Linked DNA regions of Homo sapiens. The protein of the gene in region 1 interacts with the protein of each later gene in a biochemical or structural test. Each region holds a gene or a part of one and is shown on either strand. Other genes may lie near its edges.

The links. Proteins that work in one complex are often made in the same cells at the same time.
Region 2: of the proteins of CCND3 (region 1) and USP10, one has a biochemical effect on the other in vitro, tested with the Homo sapiens proteins (one study listed by BioGRID).

The regions. Positions count from the first base shown.
Region 1 is NC_000006.12:41,937,956-41,946,924, forward strand, and holds the start of CCND3 (G1/S-specific cyclin-D3), read right to left. Parts: upstream 3,854-8,969; 5' UTR 3,695-3,853; coding exon 3,497-3,694; exon of another isoform or gene 3,207-3,496; coding exon of another isoform or gene 2,997-3,206; intron 2,631-2,996; coding exon 2,415-2,630; intron 1,251-2,414; exon of another isoform or gene 211-1,250; intron 1-210. UniProt on the Homo sapiens protein: Regulatory component of the cyclin D3-CDK4 (DC) complex that phosphorylates and inhibits members of the retinoblastoma (RB) protein family including RB1 and regulates the cell-cycle during G(1)/S transition.
Region 2 is NC_000016.10:84,759,000-84,765,999, reverse strand, and holds part of USP10 (ubiquitin carboxyl-terminal hydrolase 10), read right to left. Parts: intron 6,638-7,000; coding exon 6,528-6,637; intron 6,110-6,527; coding exon 6,054-6,109; intron 5,829-6,053; coding exon 5,725-5,828; intron 3,012-5,724; coding exon 2,912-3,011; intron 1,915-2,911; coding exon 1,737-1,914; intron 1-1,736. UniProt on the Homo sapiens protein: Hydrolase that can remove conjugated ubiquitin from target proteins such as p53/TP53, RPS2/us5, RPS3/us3, RPS10/eS10, BECN1, SNX3 and CFTR.

The DNA of each region.
Region 1 (8,969 bases):
GGGGAGATTGCCCAACCCAAGCCACATCCCCTTGGTAGGATATCAGGGATGGGTCCTGAGGTATAGCACCCCACCCCACCCCCTTTAGCTGGAACCCGTAGTGCCCCATGCCACTTGACTTTCAGGAGGATAGGTAGAGGCCAAGCCAGACAGGATGGCTCCAAATGATTCCAGAGGGATCAAGCCCTATCCTCACCTACCCAAGCCTACCTGCCAGTACTAGGTCTCGGGAGAAGGCTGGGAGCTCCACCCCAGTCCACTCGTCATGGGTTCCCAGACCTGGCCCCATTTCTGAGTTGCACACATGAGGATTTCTTCATTGTTTTATCTCAGGAAGGAACTTGTGGGTTTGACTCCTTATTGAGGCAGAAATGGCAACCCCACCCAACCTCTTCCAGGCCCCAGCCACAGCTGTCTCTCTCTTGGCCCCAGCTTAGGTGTCAGCCTCTCAAATCAACCCCTACCCTCACAGAGCCCCAGAGAAAATAGCCTGGCCTGGAGCCAGAAGTGAGACAGATAAATTACAACGCTACCCCTAGTGCATGTCCCAGGAGCCAACTCCTAACTCAGCAGTAAACAGAAGGGACTCAGCTTCTAAGGAAGCATCTGGAAGGCAACTGGGAGTGGGACTCTCCCTATGGGGAGGCAAGGGGTTGTGTTTGAGGGAAAGTGGCCACCTTTCCCCATATCCAGGCAACCAGAGAATCCCAGTGTTAACTGGTGGAGAACACACCCCTGGGAGTGCTTAGCTTCAGTAGGTGGCAGCGGCCATCACATTCCTGACTTTTAAGGCAACCTGGTCTAGCTAGAAGACCCAGGTTCTACACTCATCTGCTCAGTGCGATGCTGAGGCAGGACCTTGCCCTCCTTCCTTGGGCCTCAGCCTCCTCTGCTGCACACGGATTTGGACCAACTGGAGTTCTCAGAGGTCCCTTCCAACCTTGACCTTCTAGGAAGTCTTTTGGGCACTCCACCCCCAGCTCAGGCAGAGGGAAGAGTACTTTTTGCCTGTACTGAAAAACCCTCATACGTGGGCACACAAACCACCTCCATCTTTTCACAAAAAGGAAGTTCCCCTTCTACCTTCCAGCCCCAACCCCTCCAAAAACATCTTGCTCTCTGGCCCTGGAAACTAGCTCCACCTTCAGACTTGCCAAAAACTACCAGATTCATCACAAAGAGCTGTGGCGCCTCCTGGATTCCCAACTCTGGCCTCCTACTCCCATCTCTGAGCTACTTGGCAGGAAGAGGAATCCTGTTCCTCGACTCACAGCAGTCGGGGGCCCCAGTACCCTGGCTTCCCTGCCAGCCAATCACAGCAGCCTGCTTGCTGCCCTCCTCCCTGGGAGATGGGGCCCAGAGACTCCTCTCAGGGTCAGCAGAAGACTTGGCCCGCCACAGAGCAAGGTGGAGGAAGGTGCCAGCTCACCCACCCTCTCCCCCAGCCTCCCTAGGAGACAATCTGCATGTCCTAAATAACCTCTTCCAGATCCAGCAGCTCCCCCGCCTCCTCCCCAGGCTCCTTCTGAGGCGGGACAGAACCGGTGACTTTCCTGCCCGGCCTGAGCCCAGCCCAAGTTTCCAGCAAGAGGCCCAGGGAGCCACTTCCCAAACCACAGGAGTGACAGCAGCTCCCCACAGGGTTATGAAAGACCTTGGTCAGAGAGGGCGGGCCAGGGGAGGGGGCACCATTATCACATCGGAAGCAGATGCAGCTCACCTCCCTGTCTGTCCCTCAGCTTGGGCCTTGGGCTAAGGGGGGAAGAGGGAGCTGTTTCCACCAGGCCCAAAGCAGCTGCTCCAGTTCCTCAGAATGAGGACGAGGAAGGATTAGGAAGAAGCTGTTTCTTCCGGGATATAAGAGGAAGCAAAGAAGGTGGGATGAAATACATCAGCCCTTCCTTAAAGCAATCAGGGCCTGGCTTTAATTGGCTCTGGGAGGCTTTTCTATCACAAAGTCCACATGAGGATAAAGACTCAACCAAGGCAAAACCCCCTCCCCCACATGAAGCACATTCCACTCCCCTACTCCAGTGGGGGTGTGCAGGCATGCCCTTCTGCTGCCAATAAATAACTCATGGTGGCTGCGTAAACCCAGAGGCAAAGTACTAGTGAGTGTAGACATGCAATTTGACTTGTTGCTATCTGGGGGAAAGACCAGGAAGGAGTGGCATCCCCTGGAGGTCAGGAGGAGGGGGTTTAATGCCTGCCTGCAGCTCAAGCCTGGGCGGGAGTGATACTAACCATCACACCACAATGCCCCATCGTTTGTTCCACCCCAATTCCTTTCCCAAAGGTCCTGATCCCCTTGCTTCCTCTCCAGGGGGCAGAAAGCCTCTGATATCTCAAGCTTTCCTTTTCCTGGAAAGTGGGGAGACAATACGTGTCGGGGGTGGGGGGAGTTACACACGCACCCGCAACTGGCGGGGAGAGACAGCGTGGTCGGTGTAGATGCACAGTTTTTCGATGGTCAGGGGCGTGGTCTCGCGCAGCTTGGAGGCCAGCAGCATGCAGACCGCACCCAGGAGCTGCAACTGCGCCTTTCGGGTGGGGACGCAAGACAGGTAGCGATCCAGGTAGTTCATGGCCAGGGGGAAGACTTCCTCCTCACAGCGCTGCTCCTCACATACCTGGGGGAGGGCGCACAGTCACTGCTGGGTCTGGAGCGTGGGGAACACAGCAGCGGGGGGGTGGGAGCGCTGAAGTGAGGTGGGATAGGGAGCAAAAACGGCAGAGAGGGTAAGCTACTTAGAGAGACAAGGACCAATAAAGGAGGAGGATGCGCCCTCCCCAAGGTGACGCCCCCCACTTCCTCTGCGCGGCCTCCTCCCCTCTCCCCTTGACGGGGGAGTGGTAAAGCCAAGGAGCCCTTGCTCACGGAGGATTCCAAACGGAGACTCCCCTCCCCCACAGCGAGGGGAAGTGGGACGCAAGGGTCACCCATGGTAGCCAGAGAGCTGGGACCTCACCCCCATCACCGCCACCACTGCACACACCCGAGGGGAAGGGAGGAGGCTCCTGCCGCTGCCTCCTGCACTTTTCATTTCCCTGTCGGCCGGAACAGGGCGCGCGCCACCCCCATCGCCTTCCCCGCCAGAACCCCGCGAAAGACACAGGAACCGGCTCCCGGGCGGGGGCGGCCGAGCCCAGGGTTTTCCAGGCGCGCTCTCCGGAGAAGGCCGGGAGGCGGAGGGAAGCGGGAGACGCTGTGAGAAGCCGAAGGGGAGAGAGTGTCCTTGGTCCCGTTTGCTCGGCCCGAAGAGAGGCACAGTTAGGGTGCCAAGTGACTGGCAGTCACTGTCGGGAGGAGCCGATTAGGGCTCGGGAAAGCAAGGGAGGCAGCTGGCGTGGGTGCCCTAGTGAAAGGCCAGGCCCCGGGAGTCTTAGCCTCGGAGCATCCTGCAGATTGCTGTGGGGACCGGGATGTCCCGACAGGGCGGCCCCGGTGTGTCCAGACCCGGGAGCGGTGGGGGAGGGGGACGCGTCCGGGCGGTACCTCCAGCATCCAGTAAGCCAGCATCTTCCGCATGTGCGGCTTGATCTCCCGCTGCACGCACTGGAAGTAGGAGGCGCGGGGTACGTAGCGCTCCTCCAGGCGGAGCAGGCTCTGCAGGACACGCTGGTCCCCCAGCAGCCGCGGGTCCGGCCCGGCCCGGGGCGCGTGCCGGGTGCCTTCGCAACACAGCAGCTCCATACTCGGGCAGCGAACAGGCAGGGCGGGAGTGCGGGCTCGCGAGTCCCAAGGCAGGCGACGGGCCGGAGAGCGCGGGGCGCGGGTCTGGCGCTGGCGCTGGCACTGCGCGGCGGATCCCCAGCCCGCCCGCCGCCCGCGCGCGCGCGCCGCTTCCCTGACAGGCGCCCCGCCCCTCGCGACGATGTAGCAACCGTGGAATGCTCGGACGTCGCAACGCTCCGAGGGGCGGGGCTGCGGCGCCCCGGACGGAAAGGGTTGGCTGAGCGCTCTCCCCTCCCTCCCGCGGCCCCATTGGGCCGCTGAGCGCAAGCCGGCCGGCTTCCGGGCACTCCAGGCCCTCTGGACCACCGGGTGCAGAGAACTTTCTAGGAGGTGGGCCTCCTACCCACCCACGGGCCCTCCCATTTTGCTTCTCGGACTCTAGTCACCCAGGAAACAATTTTTCTCCAAAGGTCATTCATTCACTTATTCATTCGTCAAACCCTACTTCACCGGCTGCTTGCTCTAAGGAATGCGATAAATAATGTCAGAGCTAGTTCTTAGTGAACGCTGCTCGAAAGCCTCACGATGTAATGACTCACTACATCTTCACGAAAACTCGGAAACCGAGGCAACTGTCATTCAGTTGGTCCGTGGCAGAGCTAGGATTGGGAAGCTGGCCTTCTTGCTGCAGATTCTGTGTTCTACACCATTGCTAGTTAAACTGTGATCCCAGACCTGTCCCGTGCGTGGTCATCGCCTGGGAGCTGGTTAGAAATGCAGACTCTCAGGCCCACCCCTAACCTGAATCAGAATCTGCATTTTAACTAGATTTCTGTGCACTTTAAAGTATGAGAGCTTTAGTCTAAGTCAGCATATAACAGAACGGAAAGGCCATGGAGTCATGGCCTCACCTTGTTAAGTTGCTTGCCTAGGTTTGGACAAGCCCCTAAAGTCGGCCTTAGTTTCTGTTTGGAGAAACTGTGGACGGAGAAACTAGATTCTCATTGAATCAGTTTCTTGCACAGACTCTGTGAGATCTACCGGTTGCATTTCTTCCACCTCCCAAACTTTTGGTTACTTTGTAGTTTTACCGGAAGCTAGATTCCACTTGACGAAGAGGCCGAAAAAGACCTCCAATAATGCTCCAAATGGGAGGAGGCCATGAGGATCCCTGCCCTACTGGGGTCCTCCTGACTTAGGAGACACTAAGGAAGTGTCTAACCATTTTCTGTTAATTATTCTTTTTTTTTTTTTTTTTTTTTTTTGAGACGAAGTCTCACTCTGTTGCTCAAGCTGGAGTGCAGTGGTGCGATCTGGGCTCACTGCAACCTCCACCTCCCGGGTTCAAGCAATTCCCGAGTAGCTGGGACTACAGGCACGCACCACCATGCCTGACTAATTTTTGTATTTTTCGTAGAGATGGGGTTTCACTATGTTGGCCAGGCTAGTCTTGAACCCCTGACCTCGTGATCCGCCGGTCTCGGCCTCCAAAAGTGCTGGGATTACAGGCGTGAGCCACCGTTCCCGGCCGAATTATTCTTTCTTATATTATAAATTGTATTGTAGTTTTCATATCATAAAATATTCTTTTACATTGTAGAAAACTTCAAAAATACAAATAAGCCACAAAAAAAGGAAATAATCATTTGCAATTTGCCATGAAATAACCCTTTAATATATCAATGTTTATTTTTCTAATCTTTGTTCTATGAATAAACACACATTTTAAATGGAATCATCACAAACTGTTTTGTAAGCTTTTTTCATTAAAAAAATACTGTTAACACTTTTCCATGCTATTAAATATTCTAGGACATAATTTGTAATAGGGACATAATATACCATTAGGTGAATGTACAAAATGTATTTTGGCAAACCTGTATTGGTGGAAATTTAAATTATTTCTAGTTCTTCTCTATTAGACATAATACTGTAAAATATTTTTGTGGTAATATCTTTGTGCACACTCATGATTATTTCTAGAAGTGAATTAATTTCTAGAAGTGGAATTTCCCAATCTAAGGTTATGAAACATTCTAAGGCTTTTGATACACTTCTAATTGCCAAATTTTCCTGCTGAATAGTTAAACCAATCTTTTCCACCATCATTACATATCTATTTTTCAAAACAACTCTGCCAACTAGAGAGTGAAAGTGGCTTATTAGTAATAATAAATCTATTTTGGCATATTACTAGACATTTACATTTCTTATGTACATTACCCATTCATGTCCTTAGCTTATTCATTTATAGGGATGTTTGTTTTCTCTTATTGACTTATAAGTTCTCATCACCTCTCAAAGATATTAACCCTTTTCATATTTTTTGTTTGGTTTTTTAACTTTGGTTATAAAAATTCTTGACATAAATTAATTTTTAAAATCAGTATTTTTAAAACTTCTCATTTATAGTAACATGGCACTATGTATAAAAATGTCCCATCAGCCCAGCACTTTGGGAGGCTGAGGCAGGAGGATCACTGGAAGCTAGGAGTTGAAGACCAGCCTGGACAACAAAGCAAGACTCCTATCTCTACAAAAAATAAAAAAAAAAAATAAGCTGGGTGCGGTGGCACAAGCCTGTAGTCCCAGCTACTAGGGAGACCGAAGCAGGAGGATCGCTTGAGCCCAGGAGTTCAAGGCTGCAGTGAACCATAACGGCACATGACCTTCCTTAACATTTTGTTATCATACATTTTGCAAAAACAAAATTTTAGTTCATTGTTTTTACTAATTTTTGGTTCACGGTGGATTTTTTTTTTTTTAACAAATAGAAGGGTTTTTTGTGTTTTTCTTTGTTTTTTGGTTTTCTTTGTTTTTTTGACACAAAGTTTTGCTCTTGTCACCAGGCTGGAGTGCAGCTTACTGCAACCTCTGCCTCCTGGTTTCAAGTGATTCTCCTGCCTCAGCTTCCTGAGTAGCTGGGATTACGGGTGCATACCACCATGCCCGGCTAATTTTTGTATTTTCAGTAGATACGGGATTTCACCATGTTGGCCAGGCTGGTCTCGAACTCCTGACCTCAAGTGATCTGCCTGCCTCAGCTTCCTAAAGTGCTGGGATTACAGGCACAAACCACCGCACCTGGCAAATTAGTTGCTGATTTATTAATTGAGGGAGGGCCACATAGACTGACTAGTCCTGAAAGCTGGATGTGAACCTGTAGTATGGGGACGGGAGCTCCTGGTGAGCAGGACTTTAGGAGAGATACTTCTGCCTCACCCCTGGATGGAATAGCCATGCCTAGAGCTAGATCATCCCTGACTTTCAGGGCCAAGGACTGGCCACTGGGGAGGCAGGTGAGCTCAATGCAGGACCAGCACAAGTTCACCAGTTACCTCCACCTCAAAGAAATAGAGGCTCCTCTTGTTTTTCTTGTTTTTGTTTTTGTTTTTCTAAAAGGAAAACTAAAGACAAAGCAATGACCAGGGCCAATAGTATGAGGAGTTTCTACCCAGGTACATCCAGTTAGAAAAAGTCAATAAAATGGCAAATTGGAGGAGGGGTGGGAATGGAATGTCACAGGCCAAATAAGAAACCCCAAGGAGGAAAGATACATTTTCTTTCTCTTCCTCTTCATCATCAAAATACCCCCATCTGGGCCAGGCACGGTGGCTCACGCCTGTAATCCCAGCACTTTGGGATGCCAAGACGGGTGGATCACCTGAAGTCAGGAGTTCGAGACCAGCCTGGCCAACATGGTAAAACCTTGTCTCTACTAAAAATACAAAAAATTAGCCAGGTGTGGTGGTGGATGCCTGTAATCCCAGCTACTCCGGAGGCTGAGCAGGAGAATCACTTGAACCCTGGAGCCAGAGGCTGCAGTGAGCCGAGATCGTGCCATTGCACTCTAGCCAGGGCAACAAGAGCGAAACTCTGTCTCCAAAAAAAAAAGTCCGCATCTGAGAAGTGAGAGGCTGAACAAGGTGATGGGTGAGGCCCATCACCCCACAGTCCACATGCCATGGCTTAGTTACCTTCAGACCCATTGAGATGCTGGGGAGAGCCAAGCGAGCCATGGGGCTGAGAACAGGGGTGCTAAACAGGGTTCTGGAGTCAGAGACTGCTTTCAGTTCAAACCTGGCTCCACAGCTTATGACTTTGAGAGAATTACTGGAACCTCTCTGCTTCCTCTTTTATCCAGTGGGGATAATATAATAGCCCTATAATGATGTTCTGAAAATTAAACAAGCAGAAAATGTCTTACCTGTGCCTGGCACAAAGCAAGCATTCAGAGATAGTAGTTTCTGAAATGATTATTATTATTCCCTTTCTCAAGGAGTACCCTTTCTGTTATGAACATGCATCCATAACCCCTCTAAGAAAAGCAAAAGTTTGAGCAGCAAGAGCCCTACTCCTAGAATTGCATCTCTAGCAAATCCTGAAGACCTGGCTTCTAACGGTAAACGCATGGTCTAGCGTATGGAGAGGACCCTCCAGGGCCTGGAGCCACACCCCTCTGCCACTCCACTCCCTCACTGTGTGAATTTGGCTAAGTTAAACCACCTCTCTGTGCCTCAGTTTCCTTTTCTAAAAATGGTGATAACAGTAGTACCCCCCCACAGAGTGGTTGTGAGGAGGAAATGGGTTGATTTGTTTAAAATACATAGAAGAGTGGCTGGCACGTGGTGAACCCTTTTTTAAAAAGTTAGTTGTGATTGCGGGACTTAAAAGCACAAAGTTGGCCGGGCACGGTGGCTCACACCTGTAATCCTAGCACGTTGGGAGGCAGGGGCAGGCAGATCACTTGAGGCCAGGAGTTTGAGACCGCCTGGCCAACACAGTAAAACCCCATCTCTACCAAAAAAAAAATATAAAAATTAGCCGAACGCAGTGGCGCACGCCTGTAGTCCCAGCTACTCAGGAGGCTGAGGCAGGAGAATTGTTTGAGCCTGGGAGATGGAGATTGCAGTGAGCCCAGATCGCACTACTGCACTCCACCCTGGGCAACAGAGACCTGTCTCAAAAAAAAAAAAAAAAAAAAAAAAAAAAAGCAGTAAACCAAACTACATATAATTTAGCTTTTTTCTTTGAGAATCAAGGAGCTATCTCGGTGCTTACAGTATTCCAGGTCACTATTATGAGCATCTGTAATATTTGTACAATATTTCACATTAATCTTTAAAACTCTTTGCTTGTCCATTCCTATCAGTAAAAATTGAGCACTCTTCGGCTGGGCGCGGTGGCTCACACCTGTAATCCCAGCACTTTGGGAGGCCGAGGTGGGCGGATCACCTGAAGTCAGGAGTTCAAGACCAGCCTGGCCAACATGGCAAAACCCCATCTTTACTAA
Region 2 (7,000 bases), on another chromosome or scaffold:
AGAAAGGAAATTAGGCTCCAATGAGGCCTCTTCAGTACTTTCGATGGGTAAACCTTCTTGGAGATGGTACAAGTTTTGCTGAATTCCACATCACAGTGGTACTGAAAAGCTCTCAGGTAAATAAAGAAAAACCTTTCCGAAGGACTTTGTGAATGAGCAAAAAGCTGCTTAAGGGAACTGGCACACAGCCAGGTGCCCAGGGACTCCAGCCCAGTCACGGGTCTGTCTGTGTAAAAAAGACCTCCCTTCACACTCTCTTCACTTTCTACCTCACCTGCTTCCAATCAGTTCACAACAGCCAAGACAGGGAAACAACTGTCTGTGGATGGGCCAATGGATAAAGAAACTGTGGTGTGTATATATAGACAAGGGAACACTATTCAGCTGTAATAAAGACCCTGCCATTTGCCACAACAGGAATGAACCTGGGGAACATTATACTAAGTTAAAGAAGTCAGACACAGAAAGAAAAATATTGCATGGTCTCACTTATACATGGAATCTTTATTAAAAAAAAAAAAAAGACGAAACTACAGAGATAGGGAAAAGAGTGGTTCCTAGGGGTGGCGAGTGGGAATGGAAGATGTCGGTCGAAGGACACCAAGGGCAGCCACACAGGCGAACAGGTCTAGAGATCTGATGTGGAACATCGGACAAGAGCTACTCATAGTGCACTGTATTTGGGACTTTTGTGAAATGAGTAAAACTGCAGCTGCTCTTGCCATGTGCACACACACACACACAAGGGTAACTGTGATGGGGAATATGTTTATCTGCTTCACTGTAGCAACTATTTTACTATCTCTATTTCATAACATCTGTGTATACTTTAAATATACACAATTTATTAACATAAATAAAATTCCTCCAGATACACTGTCTTCTCTTACCAAAACACATGGTTTGGTTAGCTGGTTTTTTTTTTTGAAGACAGTCTTGCTCTGTCACCCAGGCTGGAGTGCAGTGGTGTAATCTTGGCTCACTGCAACCTCTGCCTCCCGGAGGTGGTTTTATGTTGCAAGTTTTAAATGCAGATGAAGTCTAATATATATATATATATTTTTTTTTCTCTCTCTCTCGTGGTTATTGTTTATGACCTATCTTATGAAACCTTTGCCTACCCCTAAGTCATGATGACATTCTCCTGTATCTTTTTCTTTTTTTTTTCTTGAGACAGAGTCTCACTCTGTCACCCATGCTGGAGTGCAATGGCGCTATCTGGGCCACTGCAACCTCTGCCTCCTGGGTTCAAGCGATTCTCCTGCCTCAGCCTCCCTAATAGCTGGGATTACAGGTGCCTGTCACCACACCTGGTTGATTTTTGTATTTTTAGTAGAGACGGGGTTTCACCATGTTGATCAGGTTGATCTCGAACTTCTAACCTCAGGTGATCCACCCGCCTTGGCCTCCCAAAGTCCTGGGATTACAGGCATGAACCACCGCGTATGGCCAATTAGCTGGCTTTTCTCTTACTCCCTAGCAGTGAGCAGCTGAACTTGACAGAGTAGAAGGGAGGAGCTCCCTGTCCCCTGCAGACATGCGCCAGCAGGGAGAGAATAAGCCACGGGGGCTGACAAGGGAAGCATCAGGAAGTGCAAGAGAAGAGCAGGCAGGGGAGCAAGATGCAAACCATTACGTCCAAGAAGTCTCAAAACAAGCCTCACACCTTCCCCCTTCACCAACATGGCAAAACCCTAGAAAAGGCAAATATTAAGTTATTCCAGAAAAGCACAAACCTGATGTGTCCACCAAAAATGCCGGTGATTGGAGTCTGAACAAAATCCGCCTGGCGGGTGACGGAAGTCTTGTTCCGGGGGCCCACTTGTTCCCATTCATCCTCGCTTCCTTCACCTTGTTCTTCCTGCTCTTCTTCATTGACCGAGTGGTTTTTGGGGCCGTTGGAAATCGTAAGTTCTGAAAAGGAGAGCATCTGCTTACACTACTATTTACGACAAGAACAGCAAAAAAAAAAAAGGCACAGATCTGTCGATTGCAGTTTTAAAAATGAAATCAGGGTGTGGTCTACATTAGGAGCCACGGCAACCAATCGCAACAGGAGCAACGTCACTGGATCCACGGCCAATCGCAACAGGCACAATGTCACTGGATCCACGGCAACCAATCGCAACAGGTGCAACGTCACTGGATCCATGGCAACCAATCCCAACAGGCACAACGTCACTGGATCCACGGCAACCAATCGCAACAGGTGCAACGTCACTGGATCCACGGCAACCAATCACAACAGGCGCAATGCCACTGGATCCACTGCAACCCATTGCAATGCCACTTGATCCACGGCAACCAATCGCAACAGGTGCACCACCACTGGATCCTTGTTTACATAAACTCCTAGAAATGACATCCCTGGGACAACTGGCGAAATTTGAAGATGCTCTGCAAAGTCGGTATTACCGTGTCATTACAGTTGTTTTTCTCAGTTAGATAAGGGACTGTGGTTACGCAGGAGATGCTTTAGCACCTGAGATGAACTAAACTGTTAGCTGCAACTTAACTTTGAATCATTCAGGGAAAATGTATGCGTATGTATGTATATATGGATGGACAGATAAGACATATATATATATACACAGTGTGTGTATAGCATCAGAAAATATGTTTAAAACTGTACACTCGGCAATTATAAAGGTATTCATCAAACGATTCTTTCAGCTTTTTTATAGGCTTGATCATTTTCCTAATTAAAAGTTAAAGGAAAATGGCAGAGGTTCGGGATAAACTGTAATTTACCTAAATATAACCTTCTCGATGGTGTAAGTTATCGTAGGGAATAAATGCTATTTGAAAGGAAAACGACTGAGGGGCAGGGAAGCAACATAACATATGAGTATGCAACACCTGTTTACAGCGAACTCTTGCACAACTCTGCGGCAAGTGGACCATAACCTACTTTCATTACTTGGTGAGAGAAGCTTCTTTAGGTTCAACATTTCCTCATGAAGTCCATTTAGAATGAAGCCTAAGTATTCCTCAGCATCTTCTTGTCGACCCTGAAAAGGTCAAATATAATCACGTTACTGTGAACTGATCACTGTCAAAGGCCTGCAGGACATGCAGTACTTGCAAAGTCCAACCATGCCTCCTCTGAAATGGAAGATGTAAAGTATTTCCAAACAATGACATGATGACATGGGTTTCCCTTGCATAGCTGAAATCCCAAGAGTAGGAGGAAAAGGAGAAACTGACTAAACACATATCTCTAAATGGGTGGACTAATGGGGATTTTTATTATTTATACTTTCTGTATTTTTGAAATTTTCTTCAATAAATATACTTTTTTTTTTTTTTGAGACAAAGTCTCATTCCGTCACCCAGGCTGGAGTGCAGTGGTGCAATCTCAGCTCAGTGCAACCTCCAGCTCCCGGGTTCAAGCGATTCTCCTGCCTCAGCCTCCCGAGTAGCTGGGACTCCAGGTGTGTGCCACCATGCCTGGCTAATCTTTGTATTTTTAGTAGAGACGGGGTTTCACCATGTCGGCCAGGCTGGTCTCAAACTCCTGACCTCAGGTGACCTGCCTGCCTTGGCTTCCCAAAGTGCTGGGATTACAGGCATGAGCCACCACACCTGGCCACATTACCTTTATCACAAAAAAGTTATTTAAAAAAAAGTTTCTGTCTTGGGTAAACAAAATAGAAGACGAAGAACTAGATGTCTAGGGCCAGTTCACTGTTCAACTGCAAGGGTCACCACTCGAGCAATGAGCTAAGCAGCCCTATGTCTGCTTCTGTCTGTCTTTGATGATGGACAACTACATGGGAAAGAACTCAAACTACATGTGGAAAAACTCCACTGATTTAGAGCGTTAGCTGTGTTACACATACATCAGCAAAATCATTCACAGACGAGTCACCCAAGAGTTTAATAATCCCACATCACGAGTGTTTGATTCTGTTACTTATCATCAGTTCATATTTCATTCTTCACAGCACAACTGCCTATTCCAAGGCCCTGCAAATTGTTCTGTTTGAAGCATCTAGGTAAACTGCAAAGTTTACTTGCCCTCTCCAGATAGTAGACGTGGACAGCAGCTGTTCACGTGAGTGCATGCTCTGCACGTGTGCAGAAAAGGGCAAAAACTGGCACAGCCAAAGTGTGCTGAAGACTTTTCATAGCAGGCCTGGGTGGCTCTCCTTGGAAAGGCCTGCTTGCAAGGTTGCCCCTTGGCTGGTGTCTGGGAATTTGGATTTCAGAAAGGTTCCCATCGGTCCAATAACTGATACGGGATTCTGCCTAAACCGTTTGCGCAAGCAATGTGCTTTCTGCTGAACACTTTGCTTTTGTTTTGGGAGTTTGGACTTTTGGTTCAAGCCAGGCAGATGGTACCTATGGGACCAGCCCTCAGTAAAAACTCTGGACACGGAGTCTGTAATGACCTTCCCTGGTTGGCAGCATTTCACGTGTGGTCACAGTCTGGTGCTGGAGTAGTTACGCGTAGCCTTGTGGCCCCACTGGGAGAGGAGTCTGGAAGTTTCCTTTAGGCCCTGCCTCACCTGTCCTTTCCCTTCCTGACTCTGCTCCGCATGCTTTTGCTGTCAGCAACCATAGCCACGGGTATACCAGCTTCTGCATTTTCTGAGTTCTTCCAGTGAATCACCCAACCTCAGGGTGGTCTTGGGGAGCCCAACACATCCCCTATTAATGTAACCTTTAGAAGATGCTTTTGTTCATAGCATTATCTCTGTGCACGATCCAAGAGGGGTTCCTGAGCACCCACTTTATTTTGCCTCCACCTGTGCTAGGTGGGCCCCTCTGGGTTCTAAGGCATCTCTGTATCTTTGTGCTTCTCTTGTTGACTATTCATTAACTCATTCCCTCACTGAGGGCAGAGGGCGCACTTCATTCCATTTCTGCATCCCTAACACCATGTTCCCATTACTTGGGAAGTGCAAATTCCAAGCCAATACCAAAAGCTGCATTATAAGCATTTAAAAAGCTTAAGACCCTATGCTACCCCTGGTGGTATCCTGCAACGATGCCCTCGACATTCACTCTTCTTCAAAGCAATGAAGCTTCAAGTAAACTTGACTTAAATGGCATTTTCTCAACTATTTTTCTCTCTGAATACATTTCCCTAAGCATCATTTCAACTGCTTGTACTGATTCATCACAAACTCAATCTGGGAGGAAAGAAATGCTCCAGTTAACGGTGCTAAGGGCGGCCCAAGTCACTCTCAACAGCCCCAGGGCCTTTTATAAGGGCTCCCTGGCCCCTTGGTCTCATGCCTTTAGTAACAAAGTATGTGATTAAAAAAAAATTAGGTAAAGGAATCAAGTACATCAAATAGCTACTAAAGCCTGTAAGTATGATGAAGACATAAGCTCTTCTGAATACTGCCATCATTCCAGGCCCAGTGCACTCCATTCTACCCCAGTGGCATATAGTGCAGTGGTTAAGAGAACTGACTTGAAAGCTGGGTTCTGCCATGTACATTAGCTACCTGACCTCAGACAGTGGCTTCACTTCTCTTAACCGTAACAAGGAGACCATAATCATACTTTATTCAGAGTCAACTAAGTTAATATATGTAAAGTACTGAGAGCAGTGCTTGGTGCACCATATCATCCAAGCAATGGACTCTTATAAACCTACATCTACTTATAGCGCTGGAGACAGAGGGCAAATATCAATAAGCAACAGTTACCACACAAACACTGGAACAAAAGGCAACACTTGATACTAGTGACAACAGAGAAGTCTCAAACCTTTTCAGACAGGCTTGACTTGTTAACTGTCAGGAGTCTGTAAATATATGTGGGCTCAAAGGCAGCTCCAGGGCGAATATCCCTCACGATTTTATCTCCAAGAGCTGCAATGGAAAGAGGACACAGGTTTTCCTAACTACAATGAACTCATAAATGATGAAAAAAGCAACATCATCAAAACTCCCCCACCTCCCACCTGGCTGAATGTTGAGAATGGCATAGGTGTAAAGACACTATCTTCCCAACAAGACTGAATTTACCAAATTTAAGTCATCTGTCTCCATAACTCCCAATATGTAATAGCATCAACAAAACTCATTTTTACTAACCTTGTCGGGGTTTTGGAGGTACTGGCATATTAGTGAACTCATTCATTAGCCGAACACTAAACATGGGGAAAAAATGTTAAATAGTGCAGTTTTAAACAATATATACTTTTACTAAAGAGCTTTGATGGCTAAGTAGAATATCAGCTATACGAGTATAGTAGATTTTAGGTAACCAATGCTGTAACAGCTAGTGAACTCAAGTCTCTTCTATATGCATTTTTGGTCTATTTCAAGTGATATATGCTGGTAAACGCTAAAATATTTTCTACTGAATCTAAAGAACACAGATCATCAATGCTCCAATTCCATTTCTGGTTAACTTCCATATAAAATCGCCAACAGTCTATTTTTAAAAAAAGACAGAATTATAGGACTCATTTGCAGGAAATCAAGAGCTTTACTAAACTATTTCAATTCTAATTATCAGACGGGAAAAACCCCACCACTTAACACATCTTTCACCACCTTACTTACAAGCTGTCTATCATGGGTGTTGACGTACAAGGCCTTTGCACTTTGGAATACAGAGGAATGAACTTCATCAGGTGGTACATCGGCGGGCAAGCAACCAATGCCTGCAGTGTCTATGTAGTGGCAGTAAGGAAGCGTAAAGGAAATGAACAGACACACCACATTTCCTGAAGGCACATGAAGCACAAGAATGTTTATAAAAACACAAGGAAGCTAAGGACGTTGAACTACTTAGATATGTCACCACGAAAAGGAATAAACCAAATAGTTACTAGGGTAAGTGTCCTGTGATGTCCATATAAGGATCTACGAAGCAGTCAGTCGTTTGTATTCAAGAACTTGACCTAACCAAGACAGTTCAATCAGTTAAAACCAAATTTCCAGTTGTAAGTGGTTGCTCTGCCCTATTATTTGTGACTATTCTAATGAGAGCCAGCTTGTCTGCAGCCCTCATTCACGTGCCAACATATCCTCTC